Linked DNA regions of Homo sapiens: region 2 is linked to region 1. The links come from fine-mapping of genetic effects on gene expression. A gene starts in region 1. The other region holds a variant in brackets. All regions are shown on one strand. Distances are from middle to middle.

What was found. PIP is the estimated chance that this variant, and not a neighbour inherited with it, causes the effect. A credible set is the group of variants that fine-mapping cannot tell apart.
Region 2: its variant is the best candidate, but not a certain one, in a credible set for the expression of GRIN3A in whole blood (TOPMed, PIP 0.51).

The regions. Positions count from the first base shown.
Region 1 is chr9:101,736,770-101,742,297 of GRCh38, forward strand. GRIN3A (glutamate ionotropic receptor NMDA type subunit 3A) reads right to left here and starts at 1,878. Exons shown (of 9, transcript NM_133445.3): 1 at 512-1,878. The coding sequence starts at 1,210. RefSeq lists a silencer at 1-292 and enhancers at 1,187-1,711, 1,712-2,235.
Region 2 is chr9:101,586,861-101,591,860 of GRCh38, forward strand. The region is part of intron 6 of GRIN3A (glutamate ionotropic receptor NMDA type subunit 3A); the gene reads right to left. PPP3R2 (protein phosphatase 3 regulatory subunit B, beta) reads right to left here. Exons shown (of 1, transcript NM_147180.4): 1 at 4,744-5,000. Among named protein-coding and RNA genes, the nearest start is that of PPP3R2, 5.6 kb to the right of the region's middle. The variant A/G (reference allele first, on the strand shown) is at 2,405.

The DNA.
Region 1 (5,528 bases):
ACCTTTGCCTAAGGCTCAGGCACACCTTCTGAAGAAGTCAGAGAGAGCAGATGCTGCTTTTCCGACACATGCTGTCAGAGTTGCTCTTGGGAGTGTGACACCTAGCCAGGAGTCAGGGATACCCCACCCCCATACCCTGCTCTTGTAGTTCTTCAGAACCTTCACCGCTCTCCACGGTCCTGAACCTCGACTTCTACTTCCCGTCGGGCATCTACTAGATTTCTCCCAGCCGGTCAAAATATGATTTTCTCTCATATTCTCCCCACTTCTTTCCTTCCAGCCGCGACCTCACTGCGCGTTTTATTTCCATCCGCGCTTTAAATATTTTATTCTACTTCTACTAAGCTCCTTCTACCTACCACCTACGAACATGGCCCAATCGTTAAGCAATATCAAAGTTATAAAGTAACAACTCCCCTCAGACTTTACCAAGCCGTTTTCTCTCCCCTCATGCAATGGCCCCGGCCCCCAGCAGCGCCCATCTCCACTCCACGCACCAGGCTCCTCTCACCTGACTCTCCCGTGGAAACTCGTGGCGCACGATGCTGATCACTGGAATGTGCAGGACTAAGCTGACCAAGTCGAGCTCCATCATTTCGCCCTGGCTCTGGGGGAAGGCGAGCAGCGCCGACACCCCTTGCACCACCACGGTATGGCACACACTTTGCAGGAAGGAGAAAGGGTCACTGCTCCATGGCGAACTAGGGGAGGAGAAGGGCAAAAGTGGCAGATCGCCCAGGCCTGCCTCGATGGCCATCACTACTTCCAAAGACAGGTTGTAGGGTAGCAGCCCTTCCACGCGGTTCAGGTTGTCCACGGCAAATAGGAGGGCGTCCCGTGGCCACAGGGCCTCCGCCCTGGCGCCCTCCCCGGGCTTACGGGAGCCCGGCGGCCCCCGGCCATGCAGGGTGCTCCCCAACCAGCGTGCGCCCGGCGAGGGCGCCGGGGACCGCCTAGTCCCTGGCTCCGGCTCATCCCTCTGGGCTCCTGCTCGGCTGTCGTCCGGAGCGCGGCTGGCCGCGCGGGGGGCGGTGGTCCAGGGCTGCAAGTGCACCGCGCCCACCCTCACCGCGTGCCCGATGCGCTTGAGGATCTGGCAGGGCTGCGGGTGCGAGGAGGAGCTGGGCACCCCGGCCAGCACCAGTGCGCAGGGCGGCGGCAACAGCAGACAGACCCTGCTCAGCAGCCACCACAAACTCAGTCTCCTCATTACTGAGACCCGCAGGGAGAAAGCGCGCCCCCTCCTGCGCCCGGCTCGCCCCTCTGCAGCCGCTGCCTGAGGTCTCCGCCTCCAGGTCCCGCGCGCAGCTTCACTCCACTCGGTGAAGCGGTCCCAGGAGCTGGAGCGGTCTCTAGGCCATGCAAGTTGGAGCGTAGCGCGCCTCCGGCAGTCTCAGATCCCGCTCCCAGGTCCCTCCGCCTGGCATCCTCTGCCCGCCCGGTCACTGCGCTGAGCAGGCAGGCGGGCGGGCCGGCGCCTGTCACCCGCAGCTGGAGCGCCCGTTCCCTGCCCGCCCCATCTGCAGGGCGCCTCGGGCACTGCGTCCGGCCCCGCGAGGCGGCCGGGATGAGAAGCAGCCGGAGTTCCTCGGGGGCAGCAGTGACAGAGGAGCGACGCGCTCTCGCCTGGATTCTTTTCCTTTTCTGCCCAGGCGAGACCCACTTATTTCCTGGGGTCGCGTTGGAGAGGGCTTTCACGCCCGGGGTGCGGAAAAGAAGCCAAATCCACCTTCCTCCACTGTTGGCCACCCTCCTGCAGGCTCCCCCAGCGCCGACTTCATTTTCTCTCTTCTCTCGCTACTTCCTCTCTGCCTTTCTTTCGTTATTTTTCCACCGAGTCGCCACCGCCGCTTGCTTCCTCGGAGGAGCAACGCGACTGGCCAGCAAAGGGTGGCTCTGCTCCGAGCGCCAAAGTTCTCCCCGCCTCAGCCGGCGCCTCCCTGTTGCTGAGCCCTGGCGCCTGCCTGTCGCTTGGCTGCGCTAAACGCCCACTGTTGGTGAGATTCCCGAGTGGCACATCCCGCGCCCCTGGAAAGTCCTCTCCCCTCAAAGGCTGGGCGTCATAGTTTGCAAAATTCCCTAAAACCTAAGAAGGAAAATAGGACTATGAGCCGGTGAGAATTCTGAATTCAGAGTCGCACCTGAGGGATCTGAAATTCGGTGGTTCACTGAAATAGGTTCAAAGAGGCTGTGACTTAACGAGCTTCTGGATGTGTCGCTTTTAAGGTTTTTCTAGCTAAGGGTATTAAAGTAAGAATTATTTACACATTTTTATCTCCTCAGCTTCTTTCTTTCTGGCATGTGAGCCTTTGCATTTTTTTTTTAAAGAATCCCTGTTTTTAGGTTCTCAGAATTAAAACAAAGTGAATTCAAAGCAATTTTTTCAGTTCAAGAAATTAAAGAGTTTCAAAATACTTTTAGAGTTTAAAATGCAGTCAACAGCAGTTCCCAGTTTAGATCAAGAGTCCCCAGATCACAGTTTGTACTAAGTTATTTCATTTGTATGGTAATACAGTGAAGTCAACGTGTTGTGATCTAATCTTTTCCTCCATGATTTGAATAATCTGAAACTAGAAGGTAAGGAAAGAGTTAAGGGCAGGCCTGTGGTTTGCACATATACAGTAGATTAATTTTATTTTATCCCACAGTATCGTTTAGAAGGAGGGTAGGAGAGATCCATGGGGTGGAGCAAGCACTGGGGATCAGCCTTTCTGAGTCTAATACTACTTCATGACCATGACCTTGGCAACTTATTTCACCCGACCTTGCCCTGCTGTTTGGATCTGCTAAATTGTTATGCAAATACAGCTGGCTTTTAGCTCTGGAGGGTTGTTTTGATTCATGAGCTAAAGTTTCCATCATGTTTTAAATCCTGGGAAGAAGAGACTCTAGTTAAGTAAAAATCCCAAGAAGCTTGCAAAGTGAATGCTGTTTTCCCCAGCCCAGATCTTTAAAGGTATCTCAGAACAAATTTACCAGACATTCGGCATCGTTTTTGCAAGACTGGGTTGCTAGAGAAGAAAAGTCTCCCATGAGAAAAAAAGTGAAAATCATAGTAGTGGGCTGAATGAGGAGGGAAAGAAACCCTCCTGAAGCCTGAGAGAACATCCCATGAATGGAGAAAAGCTGCCTCTAGTGTGCTGGAAATTCCCCCTTGATCCACAGGATTCCACTGATTGAGATCTGAATAATAAAAGTGTAGAAGTCTGAGGTCCTTGCATTGCAGGAAGATTGGGTATCTACTAATTGTGTAGTAAGGAGGTATATTTGTCTGTACTCGAGTGTGTGTTTTGAAGAATATAATGTATAACTTTCTAGGTTATGACCATGCTTAGTCCTTGTACTTTTAGTCCTTGGCATTACACTTATGTTCAGATCAGGTTCTCAAGAAAAACATGATGATGGAGAATAGTTTGATCTGATCATTAATAGCATCCTAGAATCACTCTATATGCATTAGGTTTTTCACAAGTTCATGACTGCCTTGAGGGAATAACTGAACTGCTCTTACACAGAAGACCTTCCCAAGTTTCTGAGGATAATACTGCACCAGGTCGTGATAAAACTCTACTTAAACCTGGTGAATACTGAGTGAACAATGAAGAATGGCTCTCCCTTCTTGGGCTTCCTTTTGTTTCTTTCCGGGCTTTCCCATTATAATTCACTGGTGTCCTTCCTGTTTTCCTTTTGCTGCTTGGTTTTCTTTGTCCATATCATGGTGGTCTGAGCATATCTGACAAAATTGTTCTCTCTCCTTTCCCCAAATCTTCTTTTTCCTTTTCCCTTTCTCCTTCTTGTCCACCTTTTTCATGTGTCAAGGGTCATCATTTTCAAAGTTCACTTAAATTCAACAACCAATTATTAAGCTCCTAGTATGTGTCAATCATTGTTGTAGGACCATCCTGGAAACAGATGAATAAACTCTAGAAAAGTTGAGTTTTCTCCTTTCCACAACATCACATAGTCAATAAGTGAACAAAATGCTAACATAGAGCTTATATTCTAGTGTGAAAGAGACAATAAAATATACAAATAAGTAAATAAATGTAGGGTATGTTAGTTTGTGCTAAGTGGAAAAAGAAAGCAGTGTAGAGGAAGTATTAGGAAGAGGTTGGGTTGTAATTTTAGGTGAGAAAGCCAGGGAAGACCTCTCGGAGAAGACAGCTTTTGAATAAAGATGTAAAGGGAGGTAAGGGAGTGATTCATGTGAATACTCTAGGCAAGAATTCCCAAGCAGGGGAAACTACATGCCAAGGCCCCGAGTGTTTCTGGAAGGTTTAAAGAATAATGAGGGGTCTGGAGTGGCCGGAGCAAAATGATCCAGGGTGAAAGTGGTGGCAGGTCAGGTCAGAGAGGCAATGAAGAGGTGGCAGACAATGTAAGCAAATGAACTTTGGCATCTACTCTGAATGAGATGAGAAGGCATGAAGGCAGGGACATTGGGCAGAAGAGTGATAGAATTAATACTTTAACGGGATCGCTACAGTTGTTTTGTTACTGATAGATGAACAGTGGTTAAGAGTGGAGGGCAGAAGAGTGATAGAATTAATACTTTAACGGGATCGCTACAGTTGTTTTGTTACTGATAGATGAACAGTGGTTAAGAGTGGACGCCAGAAGATGAGAAAAGGAGATGAGGCTATTGCAATAAGCCACATGAAAAATAACACTACTGTCAAATCATAGAAATCAACCTCAATAGGTTTGTGTGATCATCCCCATTCTAAAGAAAAGGACATTGAATTTGAGAAAAGTTGAGTTATCTGCACAAAATCATTAGATAGTGAGTAGCATTGTGGCTTCAATATTTTAAGTTCTTCCCAGCTGTGTGGTTGGTAGCTAAAATCAGTCAAATTTCAAAATTGGCTTACTCAGAGATGAAGCTTTTTAAAAATTATTATCTGACTCAGAATGAGAACTACTGATCTAAGAACCCATGTTGGAGAGTCAAACCAGAACAAATCCAAATGCTCGCAATTTAACATGTGCTTTTGTTCACATCTGTGTTTTCTGGTACCAGCAATGGATGGACTAAAAGCTGAGATATATTGCTATGGTGGTAGCCAAGGAAAGGCTACAGTAAAGGATGCTGTGGGAATTAGGAGTTAGATTCTCTTTTCAGTATTGTTTCGCCTATGGATATGACATTTAACCTCTTACAGCTGAAGATTCCTCCTCTGAACTGTGGTTGTGGCGACAGATCTTAACAGTTGTCTGTATAGATGCAACAGTATGCAGCCTCCTGTGAATCTTTTCAAGTTCCACGGGAATGGGAGGCTTCTGGTGAGTCTGGAAAACTATCTTGTGTTTTTTCCTATACCTTGACTTATTACAAGTTGCATTCACATCTATCTTTGTTTTTGTAAATGGCCATAATATTAAATGGCATGTCCCCAATTCTGGGTCTCCCCCTTTTTTTTTTTTTGCAATAGTAATTATGTAGATTTTTATCAATATTCAGATGAAAAATGTGTTCTCCCCTAGCTAGTGCATATCCAGAGTCTCAAATTATGCTGTCTTCCACATTG
Region 2 (5,000 bases), 150 kb before region 1:
CATTTCCAATGTCAGTGCCCCAAAGACATAGTCCCCTAGTTCCTGCACTAGCATCCTTGGAGTGCTGTGGTTCGAGGCTTCATCTGTCACTCTCTTTCTTACTTCAAAACATTGAGCTTTCCCGTTATTCTTTTGATAGGTTTTGCTTAAGTTTAAAAATCTGTTGCAGCCGGGCGCAGTGGCTCACGCCTGTAATCCTAACACTTTGGGAGGCCGAGACAAGTGGATCATCTGAGGTCAGGAGTTCGAGACCAGCCTGATCAACATGGTGAAACCCTGTCTCTACTAAAAATACAAAAATTAGTCAGGCATGGTGGCAGGTGCCTGTAGTTCCAGCTACTCGGGAGGCTGAGGCAGGAGAATTGCTTGAATCCGGGAGGCAGAGGCTGCAGTGAGCTGAAATTGCACCACTGCAATCCAGCCTGGGCAACAGAGCGAGACTCCATCTCAAAAAAAAAAAAAAAAAATCTGTTGCTTGCAACCAAATAATCTGATTCAATATATGTACTGTTTAAAGGATTAAGGTCCTCTAGCTCCGAGGTGTGAATATAACTTCTTTTGAGATAGACTGTATCCTGACGCAGATCTCAGAAATGAACGGGTGGAGCCTGTTTTAGGAAGTCTTCTCTGACAGGGTAAGGCTGTGTTGCTTTTGCCTGTCTCCAGCAGCCTAGTATATAGTAAGTTCAATAAAAAATAAAAAGCACATGTCTGAAAAGTAACTTAATTACATTTACTCTGACATTCCCTATTAAATATTTTTCCCCAGAGCAAAATGACTGCAAGAACCTGGGAAAATAATTGTATTTTTCAGTGACCTAATGCACTAAGCTTTGTATCATCTCCTCTCTGGATCTGCACAGCCAAATGCGATGTTCAAGAATTTTTTTCCTTAATAAGAGAGCTGGTGGCAGGGGGAGAAATAATGATTTTAATGAGAGGTAAGGAAAAGAAAAAGGCTGTGGTGCTTCTGAAATATGGATGACTCATAGATGCTTGGAAGCAGGACAAGGAAGAAGCAAATGCTATTTCTAATTTTGAAGACCTGGTATCTATTTTATTTATTTATTTATTTATTTATTGCCTCCTGATTATTTTGCCCAGAAGAATAGTTAGTTGCTCAAAAGAACTTGGCAGATTCATTGCTGTGTCTATACATATGGCCCCTTGTTGGGGAGAAGTAGGAGAATGATATCCACATGAAATGTGGGCTCCAGATGTACCAAAGACAGAGTTTCCCAGGTGAGAGAGTCTGGTTGAAGAGAGTTAGGTAAGATTGTGCGGTGCAATCATTTGGAATTAAAACATATATATTTAACAAGAATCATGAAGAGGGAGAAAAAAGATTCATTCAGAGAACCTGGAAGTTTCTCATTAACCAAGACATAGTGAAAGATCACACTTAACAAAAGAAACAGAAGAGGAGATAATTTATTAACACAAAATCCAGGGAGACACTGCATGAGCCTGAGTAGTGCTCACACATTTGGATAAACAAGGATTTTGACAGCACTCTCTGCATTCCTCTAACCTGGAAACTGCTTAGTGGCTCATCAACATGGCACTGCCCATGTTGCTGTGAAGATGCTTCTCTCTCCCTGTTTCTTGGGATTCTTGAGCCCCCATTTCTTTTAAGCTTGGGCGACCATCTTTTAGGGTTGAAATTGTACTTAATTTGCCACATTAGCTCTGTTGTGCAGTTTTTTGAAAAATTTATTATTAAAACGACTCAGAAAAATATTTTTAAAAACTAAATGTGAGATTACCCATAATCCTTGTACTATAAAACAATTACTTTCAATGCTCCATTTTCTCTTCTGAACAATGACCATATGCACACATATTCTTCAGAGTTCTAAACATAGGATATAACAAGTTTGCATTATGCTTTTAAAAGAACTTATTTTCTAACAAACTATTTTAATATTTCTAAAAATATTATTTTCTAAATATTATTTTATTTATTAACTTTAGTTGCCTAATACTATCACCTATTGTTTTTGTTATAATTGACTTGACTACTCCCAAACTGTGGTTGTTTAATTTTTTAAATATTATAATTTATGGTATATACGACAAATATTGCTACAATAAAAATTTTGTGTATAGTATTTTTTTTTCTTTTTTTGAGATGGCGTTTCACTGTGACTCCCAGGGCAGAATGTAGTGGAGCGATCTCAACTCACTGCAACCTCCGCCTTTCTGGTTCAAATGATTCTCCTGTTTCTGCCTCCCAAGTAGCTGGGACTAAAGGCATGTGCCACCACGCCTGGCTGATTTTTGTATTTTTTTAATAGAGATGGGGTTTCAGCATGTTGACCAGGCTGGTCTTGAACTCCTGACCTCAAGCGATCCACCTGCCTCGGCCTCCCAAAGTGCTGGGATTAAAGACGTGAGCCTCTGC[A/G]CCTGGCCATGTATAGCATTTTAAAATATTTTTATTTCTTTGAGATATACATTGCAATGAGTGAGATTACCTGGTCAAAGGATACAACTGTTCTGATGACTTGTGATGTGTAAAATGACCCATAAAAAGGGTGAAAGCCATTCCCAATGCCACCAAAGATACTGCAATGCCTAGAAGGCTTCTATTTTTGCCAACTGTTTTATAATTATTCATTTTTCCTGTTTTAAATATTGTAATTTGTATTTATTGAATTAGCAAGCCTATTTTTCCATGTTTGTTTTACCTATCTCCTTTTGAATGAATCATATAATGACTTTTTTGCATATTTATTTATGCATATCAGACACAATGAAGCTTTTTTTTGAAAAACTGCTAACCCTTTTGCTAACATGTTATGTTTCTCCCTTTTTATGTTTTCTTTGTTTTGTTATATTTTATTATATAAAAGTTTGAAGTTTTACACAGCTATACTTATTTTGATTATTGTACATTTTTCTACTGTTTCAGGCATTAGAACATATTGATTATGGGGATAAATATTTTGTGTCCAGTGTTATATCTTTAAAAAATAGTGAACCCTTCAGTCCATTTTGAACTTCTGTGCCAAAGAGTGTAACTATGTTAATTTTTCTTCACTGAAACTCTTAATTTCATCTCAATATTTCAGAGACTCCTTAGTCAATAAAAAGCTACCTCCATATTAGAGTGACCTGCATTTCTTTGTAGTAATTTAGGTTTTTATTTAAAATCTTTAAAGGTTTTATTTAAAATATTGGTAATTTTTAAAAAACATTGTGAGAACAAACACCATGTAAAACCAGTAACAACGAAAGCAAACATTTGTAGGTCAGAGTTAGCCTGTGAGTAGTCAGACTGTCTTCTGATCTACACAGCTTTACTGCTACTACGGTGACCCTTCAGTGTTAGAATTTTTCATTATGAATCAGCTAATTCCTGATGATTCATGATTTATAGTTCACAGTCATTGGCTACTGGGGTAGGTACGGTAGTTGACACGGCAGCAGAGAAGTCCGGTCTGATTCTCAGTCTGGTGGCCTTGTTCCTCTACCATAATGACACTCTATTTATTTATTTATTTATTTATTTATTTATTTATTTATTTATTTATTTTTTTGAGATGGAATCTCGCTCTGTCACCCAGGCTGGAGTGCAGTGGTGTGATCTCAGCTCACTGCAACCTCTGTCTCCCTGGTTCAAGCAATTCTCCTGCCTCAGCCTTCCGAGTAGCTGGGATTACAGGCACGTGCCACCACGCCCAGCTAATTTTTGTATTTTTAGTAGAGATGGGGTTTCACCATGTTGGCCAGGATGGTCTCGATCTCCTGACCTCGTGATCTGCCCGCCTCGGCCTCCCAAAGTGCGGGGATTACAGGCATGAGCCACCGCGCCCGGCCAACACTCTTTTTAAAAACATCCGAGCCTCCTCCTGTTCAAAGTATTCAAAATAGATATAACACCATAGCAGACTAACTACCTACTCTATCTCTTAACAGAAAGAAAGAGTCAGTACTATAAGTAGAGAATGGAATTTATACTTTTTTTAAATAAAAAATTGTCTTCATTTAAAAAATTCATACTGTTCCTCAGACAGTGGCTTAGGAATTTGTAATTAACAAAAATGTCTGGAAGATATTTTTTCCTTGAGAATGTTTCTAAAGCATGAGAGAATATACACCAAAGCTAAATTGAATTTGCTGAGGCCATATTTTTTTCTCTGTTTCAAAAAGAGTGTCTAGTGGTCTGGGGATTGCAACATATGGTACAGAGCAGACATAATCCAATTAACATAGGATTCATAACAACATATTGTGACTGATCTCTATAGCCTCAGAGCATATTGGTTTGCGTTATCGGTTTAATCTAAATATTGTCACCTGTTTCTCAAGATGAGCCAAAGGTGGAACATGGCTTAAAACTGTCTCGTCTAACATATCTGTTTCATTGCAATGCATAGAACCAAAGAGGTGGAGGCTGCTTGTTCTTTGACAAGCAATTTACCTCTTTGGGCTTCAGTTTCATCATTTATGAAAACTGAGGCTTGATTTGATGACATGGTTAAGACTATAATAAATAATTTGTAACAGGTAGATATAGGAGCTATAAAAATAAGATAAATGCAGAGAGGTAGAAATAAAGCTCAGGATTTGGGGTCAGAAAGCCTGGTTCAAATCCATGCTTTGCCACTTACCAGCTGGGCGACTTTGGAGAAGATGCTAGATCTCTACATGGCATCATCTGTAATGCTGAAATAATGGCACCAGACTCACAGTGTTGTTATGATGATTAAATGATATGTATAACAAAGGTTATATCAAAAGTTATGGGACAATTGCTCAATAAATGTTTATTATCATCATCCCAAGAAACTGTATAGAACTAGATTTGTTGGCAACTGGCAATTAACTGACAGGAAAAACAAAGCATTCCGATTTGGGAATAAATGTGATTCTTTTAACCCAAATATCCAGTTAGATCTTTCAAGTGCTAAATCCAGATACAGGCTCTCAGTTCAAGGTCATTGCCACAAAGCCTTAGGTAACTATCTTGAGTAGATTTATTGAACAATTAGCTTGTA